2 linked regions of the Homo sapiens genome follow. The protein of the gene in region 2 interacts with the protein of the main gene of each other region in a biochemical or structural test. Each region holds a gene or a part of one and is shown on either strand. Other genes may lie near its edges.

Region 1 (5,544 bases), on a different chromosome or scaffold from region 2:
GCTGGTCTTGAACTCCTGGCCTCAAATGATCCACCTGCCTTGGCCCCCCAAAGTACTGGGATTACAGGTGTGAGCCACTGCACCCAGGTTTTTTCCCCCCCATTTTTATAAATGAATTTTTTTATTCATTTTTTGTTTTCGTTTTTGTTTTAAGAGATGGGAGTCTCACCCTCTCTCCCAGTCTGGAGTACAGTGTCAAGATCATAGCTCACTGCGGCCTTGAACTCCTCGGCTCCAGGTATCCTTTTGCCTCAGCCTCCCGAGTAGCTGGGGCTATGGGTGTGCCACCATGCCTGGCTGATTAAAACAATTTTTTAGAGATGAGGGTCTCACTATGTTGCTCAGGCCAATGTTGAACTCCTGACCTCAAGTGATCCACCTGCATCAGCCTCCTGAGTAGCTGGGATTACAGGTATGAGCCACGTGCTTGGGTCATTTTTATAAATTGATATGAAACTTTTATCAATTAAAATTCTGGTAATTTATTTTTATCTCTTAAGTGAAAATGTACCTTGACTTTTTTATTTTTTAACGGTTTAAAACATGTGCAGTAGAAATTCTCTGTTAATACATAAATGGAAATTACATTTTTTTTCATATTGGCGTGTATCTACAAATATTAAAGGACAAGAAAAGGTAATATAATTTTAGGTTTAACAAATATGGTGTATATTCAAATAATACTTGACCAGCTTATCTAAATTGTACATAATATTTGGACTAGCATATGAATTTGATTTTAATTATTATGTTCACAAGCCTGGGATAATTAGATGTTATTTTGCATCTGTAACTGTAATCATTTCTTGTAATTTCTTGTGCAGGTGTATTGTACTTAATAGATTTTACTTTTGGAAATATGACTGTTGAAATTAGCTTAGCTTTTATTTACTGTTTGTAGAGTATTTTCGTTTTGGAGAAGAACACTGTTTTAGTTTAGGACGCTTTTCAAGAGTGAAAGCTTCTGATGATTTTTTTCCCTCATAGGAAGAAATACTGGAAAGAAAATGTTAGTATAATGCAGTTATTGTAACAGCTTATGACTTGATTTTGATTTGGAAACCTATACTGACCAGATATTAAGCTTAAGGATTGTATAAATCATTAAAGCTGTGGTCTTTTCATATGGAGGTTGATAGATAATTTTTTTGTCTTGAGTCTTATTTGGTGACTTTCTATTCATGTAATTCATCATGTGTGAGTGAGGTTGTTGAACAAACTGAACACATGGGCTACAGCAAGTAGTTTTTATTTTTTTTTATTATACTCAAGTTCTAGGGTCCATGTGCACAACAGGCAGGTTTGATACATAGGTATACATGTGCCATGTTGGTTTGCTGCGCCCATCAACTCATCATTTACATTAGGTATTTCTCTTAATGTTGTCCCTCCCCGAGCCCCCCACCCCCCTGACAGGCCCCGGTATGTGATGTTCCCTGCCCTGTGTCCAAGTGATCTCATTGTTTAGTTCCCACCTATGAGTGAGAACATGCAGTGTTTGGTTTTCTGTCCTTGTGATAGTTTATAGCAAGTAGTTTTACAGTACAGATCTTTCCATTACATTTTATTGTTTAAACAAAACAAAATTTGTTTTTCTGTTAGGAATAAGAAAAAAATGGTTTTTACATAGGTTCTTACGGTACGCTTGGAGTACACTTACAGGCCACTGCTGCAGTCTACATTTTATTGTGCTGAATCTGCATTCTATCAGATACCCATGGAAAGACCTCAGTATATGCTTTGCACTCTGCTTTGCTCCCCTTTTCCAATTTCCTATTGCAAATCATTTTGATGTAATACAGAAAAAACAGCATTTAAATATCTACATGAAGAGTTGACCCACTAATGTCAGCCGACCTCTACTTTGTCAGCTCATAGTTAAATCTTTTATCATTTCAAAAATAAAGTGCATTTTCTTTTTCTTTTTCTTCTTTTTTTAGTGATGGAGTCTAACTTTGTCACCCAGGTTGGAGTGCAGTAGCATGATCTCAGCTCACTGCAACCTCCACCTCCTAGGTTCAAGTGATTCTCCTGCCTCAGCCTCCCAAGTAGCTGGGATTACAGGCACCTGCCACCACGCCCAGTTAGTTTTTTGTATTTTTAGTAGTTAGTTTCACCATGTTGGGCAGGCTGTTCTTGAACTCCTGACCTCAAGTGATCCACCTGCCTCGGCCTCCCAAAGTGCTGGGATTACAGGCGTGAGCCGCCGCACCTGGTTGCATTTTCAAAAGAATGAATTTAAGAATAATAAAATTAAAATAGGCCCACTTTTAAATTGTGGTCCATTTTATAATTCAATTTTTATTGTTAACAAAAAAAAAGAGTATAAATCAGATAGTAGCACTCTTCGGCTGAAAATCCTTCAATGGCTTCCCAGTAGATTCAGAATAGAATGCAAACCCTTTGTCACCTTTAAGAGGCTTTATGACCTGGCTCCTGCCTCGTTTCTGCTGCTTGGCTCCAACAATTCAGGCCATACATTTGGGCCATATTACCTTCTTTCTCTTTCTTGGTTGCACTGAGCTTTTCCTCATCTCAGGGCCCCTGCTCTTGGCCTCCTCACTTTCTGAGACACTCTTCCCACAGACCTAGCTTGCTTGGGTGCTGTCTCCGTTCAAATCACTTCCCGGGAGATGCTTTCCCTGAACACTGTTAACTAAAGAGGGCAGCTTCTACCCCTGGGCACTCTATCCCATTTTCCTTGTTTATTTTTTCTTGGCAATGTTAATTCTTTAAGTTTTTTTTTGTTTGTTTATTTGTTTGCTTATTTATTATTTGTCTTTCCTCATTAGCGTACAATTTCTATAAGGGCAGAGGCTTTTCCCATTTTGTTTCTTGCTAAAGTCTCAGTGCCTGGAACAGTGTTTGGCCATAGTACATACTTATTGAGCATTAAATATTCTTAAGTAAATGAATGAATCAATTGAATTAAATGGACACACTATCACTTCAATAGTATGAATATTCAAAGAGTATTCAATAGTATGAATATACAATGTACTCATACTCTTTGTCATTTTGATTAAGCCATAGTTGTTAAAGAGTTTAATGCTCAGTTTTTTTTTCTTTCAACTAGCCATGTACATCTTCATGTGATCAGCCAGGATTTTGATTCTCCTTGCCTTAAAAACAAAAAACATTGGAATTCTTTCAATACAGAATACTTCCTAGAATCACAAGGTAAACAGTGTTCCTTGGTTTTCACATTTGTTTCATTTTCTGAGCTGTTCTTATATTTGATTTGGTTGTTTCCCTGAATAACAGTCTGACCTCAAAAACCTATGTACAACTTTGTGTTCCCTATAAAGCGAGCCCTGTGAAAAGAAACTGGATTATTTGGATTGTAGTATTATTGCCACTTTGCTGTGAGTTGTCTTCTTGGGGGACCTAGAAAGCTATTATGTCAGGGTCAGTGTTTTATTGTGACAAAAGGGGACTTAAAGGCTGCCGTGAGAATTAGTGGAGTTCATGGATAAGAAAGCTGTGGACAATTCTTTGTCTCTTCTGCCATCAGTTGGGTGGGAGCTTTGGGGCTGCCTCCTGTCAGGAGTGGTGAATTAGCAGGGGGAACCCTGTGTATATGTAGAAGAAAGCATTTTCTGGTGTGTGATGCTTTCTTACACACCAGGAAAGCATTTCCTGGTGTGTAAGAACTTAAGCATTGATGGGGTGTTCACAATGGCAGCTGGCATTTACCAAGGGCCAACCAGAGGTAAAGCACTCTGATGAGCTCTTGACAGAGTAACATGGATTGCCTAGAGTGTGTCCTGAAGGAGTGTATTATTTCAAAGGTGGGTTGCTCATATTTATAATCTGATTAAGCTCATTTTGCCTGAGGGAAGTCTAAACTAAGCTTACGGAGCTGTAGAATACCTGGCCTGGCATACTGATTGGAGTCACGTTTTTGATTTTTTTTTTTTTTTTTTGGTATCTCATATTGGTTTTCCAGAGTAGCTGGGATTTGACTTTTCTTCCTTGCCTGCAGCTGTGATCGAGATGGTACAAGAGGCTGGTAGAGTAACTGTCCGAGATGGGATGCCTGAGCTCTTGAAGCTGCCCCTTCGTTGTCATGAGTGCCAGCAGCTGCTGCCTTCCATTCCTCAGCTGAAAGAACATCTCAGGAAGCACTGGACACAGTGATTCTGCAGAGCCTGAGCTGCTGCTGTGGTGTGGCCCACTGGAGCAAACTGCTGGCACCTATTCTGGGTTGCTTGTGAACTTCTACTCATTTCCTAAATTAAAACATGCAGCTTTTTCACAAATTTATTCTATTATTGAGTGGCCACAATGTAGAGTGGCTCAAAGTACTTCAGGATTAGGAATTTGGGTTTGTCATAGATGTATTCTCTGGTGAGGGTGGCTGGGATATACCTGACCCACCATCTTCAGAAGGACCCATGTCAGGTCTGACCATTGGGAGCAAAGCCATGTTCACACTGACCTAATGCAGAGTATGGAAGCATTGGGCTGGTTATACATTTCTGTTTCTTAGATTTATCCTCCGCCTCTGTAGGCATGGACAACCTTTAATCAGAGCATCTAGAGTGGCCTCTTGTTTATCCTGAAGATACTGATGGGTCTTGTTTTCTGTTAGTCTGTTTTGTAATATTCTTTTCCCTTCCTTCATGGGGAGGCTTAGTTTGTCCAGTCCTTCCATGCCCTTCTATCCCAGATTACCTAAATGTTCCCTTCTCAGGAATTCTGTCTCATCAGTTCTTCACAGTGAGAAAAGAGGCTAGATGATGGTGTGGGGGGTTGGAGTTTTCTTCTAATACCGAGGGTTCCTGGCTGTGAGGAAACAGCCACATGTTCGTCATGATTGAGCTGTGAAGTCTTCTTGGACCTGTTGTCTGAAAATAAAGTTAATTTGTTTGAGGCATCTCTCTTAAGTAGGTGGAAACTATTGAAGTTCAGCTAACAATCACAGCATAGGTTCTGATGCATGGAAAGGTGGTTGGTGAATGAAAAAGTTGCGTAGAGCCACTACTTTCTTTTTCCCTGAGAATAAATTTGGATAAAACAGTTGTATTCAGTTGTTTTTTGGGATAATATTAGAACTAAAGGTGAAGGGAAAACTAAAAAGTTGGGTTTGATGAAATTGTGGATATCTTTGGGGATGTGACTTTTCACTCAAGTTGTGAGAAAAAAGGAAACACCCTTAACAAAAGCTTCTTCTGGAGAGAAAAAGCCACAGTCCATAGAGACATTTGACCTCAATGTCTTTCACAAACAAACAAGATGCCACAGTGGTTACTTAGTGAACATAGGTATAGTAATAATTATATAATTAATGATCATAGCAGCTCACATTTGTCTGACTCCTGTGTGTCCTGCATTATGCTAAACACTGTACTCAAGTGATCTCATTGAATTCTCACTGTACATAACTCTATGAGGTTACGTGCTATTGTTATGCCCCTTTAGTGGATGAGCATCTAATATTCTACAATGGTTCCTGGGCACTATCCAAAGTTGGTATTGATTCTGATGCATCAACTCATTATTTTTCTTATCAATTGAACAGTATAAATGCAAGACTAACAG
Region 2 (7,031 bases):
GTGCTGGGCAATGCCAGGAATCTGGAGGGGAGTCAGACTGGGGCCTGCCAGCGGAGAACACAGGTGGTCCCAGCCCAGAGCCAGCAGACTACTGAGAGGAGCGGGGCAGGGGCTGGGGTACTCCAGATGAGGGAAGGAGGACCTGCCTGGGAGGTCACAGAGGGCTCTGTGAAGCCTGCTTATCAGAAAAGGCTGGAGGAGCAGTTTGTGCAAAAACTCAGGGGTGGGAGAACAAGTGTTAGGGTCCATATTCATTCATTCAAAGTGAGTCCCGGTGCAGTGGCTCACGCCTGTAATCCCAGCACTCTGGGAGGCTGAGGCAGGTGGATCACTTGAGGTCAGAAGTTCGAGACCAGCCTGGCCAACATGGTGAAACCCCATCTCTACTAAAAACACAAAAATTAGCTGGGCTTGGTGGCGCACGCCTGTAATCCCAGTTACTCGGAAGGCTGAGGCAGGAGAATCGCTTGAACCTGGAAGCCAAAATCGTGCCACTGCACTCTGGCCTGGGTGACAGAGCGAGACTCCCATCTCAACAAGAAAAAAAAAACCCAAAAACCAAAATGAGTCCCAGAAGCCCCTGCTTGGTGCCAGGCTGGAATGTGCAAGGCTGAGGATCCAGTCATTGAGCCCTGCCCTTGAAGGCTTCTCACTTTGATGAGGGATCAGAATTGTTGTAACAGTGCAGTGGAAGCCCCACAGGGTGGCCCGCAGAGAGCGAGGGGTCTTCAAGGTCCAAGAGAGGTTTTTCAGGCTGAACAGAGGCAGAGAACATGCTGGGCAGAGGAGACAAGGTCAGGTCAGCCTGTTGTCTGCCTGGAGTTGTAGGTGAGGCTGAGCTTACACAGGGGCAAGAAGTGGCAGGAAAAATGGGACTGGGGCATTAGGAACCACAGAAGGCTTTGGACTGAGCAAAGGCTAGCTCATATCTGAGGTCCATGAATTGGAGGGGAGACTGGATTGTACTCCATGGCCTGAGTGTGTTCAGAAGTTAGTTGTACCTGGTGTATTTGAGAAATTATTTGCCTTGGGGGATAGCGAGGCTGTGAGGTGGGTGGGCTCAGGTCAGAAGGGGCTTCCGGAGCCCAGGCTACACACTGGGCTCCATGCAGCTTCACAGAACCCTCATCTGTTATTCAGGAATCCAAACATCTCTAGAAGCTGAAAGTTCTTTTCTAGGTTCAGCACAAACTCATTTCGCTGCAGTCATCCTGAACTAATGTGAGGCTATTTGCGGACTTTTTTTTTTTTATCCCCTTAAGTGTGTCATGGTCTTAACTGCAGAAATATTAGTGGGTTTGATCATGGGGTGCTCCCCCAGGCCCTCCTGGGAGTTTATGTAACAATCTGTATGCCAGCCATTTGCCTCTCTAAAACCTGAAAGATTCAAAATTCTGAAGCCCATCCAGCTCCAGAGGCCTCCTCTTGTGAGCAGAGGGGAGTCACAGAAGGTTTGATGGGGGCAGGGGCAGGCTCTGTTGGGAGGGATGAAGTGTCAAGGGGAGGCTGCAGGTGGGGACTCCTGAGTAGGCTGGGGCCTCAGGAACAGAAGAGGGGATGGGCTGGTGCTATATCTGGGGCAGAAGGAACCAGATTTGGGTTATTATCTGCCTGGGAGAGCTTAAGGAGGGCATGAAAGAAAGGGAAAAAGACAAACAGTGTTGGATTTGCAACTGGTCTTAACAAAAAGAATTCACAAAGCATTTTATATTTTTAAAAATTCTGGCTTGTACTCATTTATAAACTAAAAAAAAATAACTATATGATGCAGGCAACGTGGTGAGACCCCATCCCTACAAAACATGAAAAAAATTATCCAGGTGTGGTGGCACATACCTGTAGTCGTAGATACTTGGGAGGCTGAGGTGGTAGGATCACTTGAGCCCAGGAGGTTCAGGCTGCAATGAGCCATGATTGCACCGCTGCACTCCAGTCTAGGTGGCAAATCAAGACCTTATCTCAAAAATAAAAATTTGGCTGAGTGCAGTGGCTCACGCCTGTAATCCCAGCACTTTGGGAGGCCAAGGTGGGCAGATCACGTGACATCAGGAGTTTGAGACCAGCCTGGCCAACATGGTAAAACCCCATCTGTACCAAAAAATACAAAAATTAGCTGGGCATGGTGGCGCACACCTGTAGCCCCAGCTACTCTAGAGGCTGAGGCAGGAGAATCCCTTGAACCTGGGAGGAAGGGGTTGAAGTGAGTCGAGATCATGCCACTGCACTCCAGCCTGGGGACAGAGCGAGACTCTGTCTCAAAAAATAAAAATAAAATAAAAATTCAACTATAGAAGGAAGACCCCAAGAGGATGACTCTCCATACCTAATAAGCACAAATTTAGTTTTTTTTTTAATCTTTGAATAGAGCACTTTGAAGAAAAAGTTAAGTAAACCTGCTATTGACTGTTAATGAACTACTACATTTTAAATCCTCTGAATCTCCTGTAGGCACCGTTTTATGAGTGTGACTTACCTAAACAGCATTTCACCAGCTTGAAAACAACCAAATTAAATGCAGAAGGGTCTTAACATGTATGTCTCAGAAAAATGGAGCTAATACATTCATTTGTGTCTGCATACCTTCCCTGTGGCTTAGGGCAGATTAAATAATCTCTCTGTGCCTTAGTCTCCTCACCTGTAAAATGGGGCCAAAAATAGGACCTACCCCAGGATTCAGTGACTCAGTATTTGTCACGTGCTACCTGGCATGTAGGAAGTCCCATGTAAGTGTCAACCTGCTACTGTTGTGTTTTTTTTTTTTTTTTTTTTGATCATTCTTGGGTGTTTCTCACAGAGGGGGATTTGGCAGGGTCATAGGACAATAGTGAAGGGAAGGTCAGCAGATAAACAAGTGAACAAAGGTCTCTGGCTTTCCTAGGCAGAGGACCCTGCGGCCTTCCGCAGTGTTTGTGTCCCTGGGTACTTGAGATTAGGGAGTGGTGATGACTCTTAATGAGCATGCTGCCTTCAAGCATCTGTTTAACAAAGCACATCTTGCACCGCCCTTAATCCATTTAACCCTGAGTGGACACAACACATGTTTCAGAGAGCACAGGGTTGAGGGTAAGGTCATAGATTAACAGCATCCCAAGGCAGAAGAATTTTTCTTAGTACAGAACAAAATGAAGTCTCCCATGTCTACTTCTTTCTACACAGACACAGCAACAATCTGATTTCTCTATCTTTTCCCCACCTTTCCCCCTTTTCTATTCCACAAAACCGCCATCGTCATCATGGCCCGTTCTCAATGAGCTGTTGGGTACACCTCCCAGACGGGGTGGTGGCCAGGCAGAGGGGCTCCTCACTTCCCAGAAGGGGCGGCCGGGCAGAGGCGCCCCCCACCTCCCGGACGGGGCGGCGGCCGGGCGGAGGCGCCCCCCACCTCCCTCCTGGAGGGGCGGCTGGCCGGGCGGGGGCTGACCCCCCCACCTCCCTCCCGGATGGGGCGGCTGGCCCCCCACCTCCCCCCCGACGGGGCGGCTGGCCCCCCACCTCCCTCCCGGACGGGAACCTGCTACTGTTGTTAGAGCTAGGAAAATCCTTTTCCTGGAATGTTAGTGGCTTAAGGAACCATGATTATAGTGTTGTAGTCTTTAAAATGTGTTTGCTTTGAGATTTTCCCCTTAAATGGTGGGTATTTTCCTAATGAGAAACTGCCTTTGATTCTTAAAGGAGAAAGTTCTGATTTTTCATTCCTTTCTGAATTGAGACATTTCTTCCCCAAGAGGGAGGGGAATTCTGGGTACTGTGGTTCATGCCTGTAATCCCAGCACTTTGGGAGGCTGAGGTGGGTGGATCACTCGAGGTCAGGAGTTCGAGACCATCCTGGCCAACGTGATGAAACCTCGTATGTACTTAAAAAACAAAACAACACAAAAAACACAAAATTAGCCAGGCGTGGTGGCACATGCCTGTAATCGCAGTTACTGGGGAGGCTGAGGCAGGAGACTCGCTCGAACCCTGGGAGGTGGAGGTTGCAGTGAGCCAAGATCACGCCACTGCACTCTATCCTGGGTGACAGAGTGAGATCTTGTCTAAAAAAAAAAAAAAGCGGCCAGGAGTGGTGGCTAACGCCTGTAATTCCAGCACTTTCAGAGGCTGACGGGGGCAGAGCATGAGGTCAGGAGATCGAGACCATCCTGGCCAACATGGTGAAACCGTGTCTCTACTAAAATACAAAAAGTTGGCGGGGCATGGTGGTGTGCACCTGTAATCCCAGCTACTAGGGAGGCTGAGGCAGGGGAGTCGCTCGAACCTGGAGGCAGAGATTGCAGTGAGCCGAGATGAGGCCACTGCACTCCAGCCTGGCGATGGAATGGACTCTGTCTCAAAAAAAAAAAGAGGGAGGGGAAGAAAGGGGGTACCCAGGTCTGCAGGGCAGGTGGCCAGACTGACTGGGTTCACTGGGGCCTTCCTGAGCTGGGAGAGAATGGGCTGGGAACAAGACCATGAGGCCCACTAGAGTGAGTATTTTAGTAAATGCCAATGGCTGTTGCCTCCTGAACGCCCTCCCCACTTCCCTTGGGCCTGTTTGTCTGAGGCCCGATTTGTCCCCTAGGTACCTCATGGCAGGGCCAGGTTCCAGCAGTGAGGAGGATGAGGCCTCTCACAGCGGTGGCAGCGGAGATGAAGCCCCCAAGCTTCCTCAGAAGGTCTGATGCCCCCTGTCCAGTGGGGGAGGGTGTAGTGGGAGGATGACATGAGTCCGCTGTGGCACCCCAAACTTCCCACTCTTGCCTCTTGCAGGTACCCCCCCAACACACCCACACTGTTCCTGCCCTCCTCACCCACCCACTCTCCCTCCTTAGCAACCCCAGACCAAAACCAAGCCCACTCAGGCAGCTGGACCCAGCTCACCCCAGAAGCCCCCAACCCCTGAAGAGACCAAAGCAGCCTCACCAGTGCTCCAGGAAGATATAGACATTGAGGGGGTACAGTCAGGTCAGACTCTGAGGGAGGAGGGGCTGGGGCCTGGGCTCCTGAGTCTGAGGGAGGAGGGCCTGCGGCCTGGGCTCCTGAGTCTGAGGGAGGAGGGGCTGGGGCCTGGACTCCTGAGTCTGAGGGAAGAGAGCCTGGGGACCTGGACTCCTGGGTCTGAGGGATGAGGGGCTGGGGGCCTGGACTCCTGGGTCTGAGGGAGGAGGGGCTGGGGGCCTGGGCTTCTGGGTCTGAGGGAGGAGGGGCTGGGGGCTGGACTCCTGTGTCTGAGGGAGGAAGGGCTGAGTCCTGGACTCCTGGGTCTGAGGGAGGAGGGGCTGGGGCCTGGACTCCTGGATCAGAGGGAGGAGGGGCTGGGGGCCCAGACGACTGGATCTGGAGGGCAGTTGAGGCTGGGGGCATGAGATGCCTGGGTCTGTGCCATACTGGGAGAGCTGCCAGTCTTCCCAGGAGACAAGGCAGCCTTGCATTGACTGAGCTTCTACTTGCAGAAGGACAGGACAATGGGGCGGAAGATTCTGGGGACACAGAGGATGAGCTGAGGAGGTAGGGCTGGGGCTGGGGGTTGGGGTGTCCCTGGCCTTGGGTGTAGGGGAGGCTGCTCTGCATGCTCACTCTCTACTCCTCTTGGCACCCCCAGGGTGGCAGAGCAGAAGGAACACAGACTGCCCCCTGGCCAGGAGGAGAATGGGGAAGACCCGTATGCAGGCTCCACGGATGAGAACACGGACAGTGAGGAACACCAGGAGCCTCCTGATCTGCCAGTCCCTGAGCTCCCAGGTGGGAAATCCCCCCATCCCTCCTGAAGTGGCATTTTCTCTTCTCAGTTCTCAGCTGGGACTTGCCCTGGCCAGCCCTGGGGTCACTGCTGCCCCCGTGTCTTGCCTCCCCTCTCCTTCCTCAACCCACTCCCTGCCTCAGCACCTTCAGGTTCTGCCAGGCTTGTTCCTTTCCTTTCAGCATCCTCTCTGTGACTTGCCTTTTTCTCCCCTCCAGATTTCTTGTTCTGACCACTCCCCTCGCAGCCATGTGCCAGGTGTGACCTCCTTTTTTTCACGTCAGGGGTGAGGGCCCCACCCTCATGCTAGTGCTTCACTTGCTCAGGTGCCGTTCTGTTGGTCTGGGGTGAAGCCGGGCACACCAGGTGACAGGGGCACTGCTCTCTGTCAGGCCCTGGGTGGGTGCACACCAGTGTCTGCTTTAACATCAGCCATCACTCTGGACGTGGATGCTGTCTGCACACATTGTGTGTTTGCATTTCCAGTGTAAAAGAATAAGAACAAAAGGAAATGGGGAAACTCTGCAGGGAGTTGTGGGATGAGGGGCAGGGAGGCAGAGCTTCTTCGAGAATGAAGGGAGCAGAGGAAAGACAGTCACGGGCTGTGCAGAGGTGTGGTTCTGGGGCTTCCAGAAGAGCCGTTTCCACCCAGTTCCTCGTGGGTGATGGGCAGGAAGATGCTTTGATTCTCCCAAGCCCCTAAAGTGGCATCAGCAAATTGATGGCCTAGAGAGTCACCTTAAAATGGAAAGAAGGAGCCACCCCAAAGGTCAGAACAAGAAAGGCACTGGTTGGAAAGGAGAGCAAAGGTGAAGAAGTGGCAGATACTGACGTTTTCAGCCTGGACTAAGCTCATTAAGTGGCTCCAGGCAGGCCAGGCGTGGTGGCTCACCCCGTACTTTGAGAGGCCGAGGTGGGAGGACTGCTTGAGTCCAAGAGTTCAAGACCAGCCTGGGCAACATAGTGAGACCCCCCCCGACCCCCGCCTTTACAAAACATTTTAAAAATTAGCCGAGCGTGGTGGTGTGCTACTCAGTAGTCCTGGCTACTCAGGAGGCTGAGGTGGGAGGATTGCTTGAGCCCAAGAGTTTGAGACCAGCCTGAGCAACATGTCAATACCCCGTCTCTCTACAAAAAGTTTAAAAATTAGTCTGGCTTGGTGGCATGCACCTGTAGTCCCAGCTACTGGGGAGGCTGAGATGGGAGAATCACTTGAGCCCAGGAGGCAGAGGTTGCAGTGAGGCAAGATCACGCCACTGCACTCCAGCCTGGGCGACAGAGTGAGTCCTTGTCTTAAAAAAAAAAAAGAGAGAGA

The links. The genes of interacting proteins can lie anywhere in the genome.
Region 1: the proteins of XRCC1 (region 2) and APTX form a complex in vitro, tested with the Homo sapiens proteins (2 studies listed by BioGRID).

What each region holds. Positions count from the first base shown.
Region 1 is NC_000009.12:32,972,094-32,977,637, reverse strand, and holds the end of APTX (aprataxin), read left to right. Parts: intron 1-435; exon of another isoform or gene 436-1,249; intron 1,250-3,076; coding exon 3,077-3,180; intron 3,181-3,949; coding exon of another isoform or gene 3,950-3,954; exon of another isoform or gene 3,955-3,985; coding exon 3,986-4,140; 3' UTR 4,141-5,022; downstream 5,023-5,544. UniProt on the Homo sapiens protein: DNA-binding protein involved in single-strand DNA break repair, double-strand DNA break repair and base excision repair.
Region 2 is NC_000019.10:43,544,505-43,551,535, reverse strand, and holds part of XRCC1 (DNA repair protein XRCC1), read left to right. Parts: intron 1-4,558; coding exon 4,559-4,652; intron 4,653-4,808; coding exon 4,809-4,941; intron 4,942-5,429; coding exon 5,430-5,484; intron 5,485-5,578; coding exon 5,579-5,718; intron 5,719-7,031. UniProt on the Homo sapiens protein: Scaffold protein involved in DNA single-strand break repair by mediating the assembly of DNA break repair protein complexes. Negatively regulates ADP-ribosyltransferase activity of PARP1 during base-excision repair in order to prevent excessive PARP1 activity.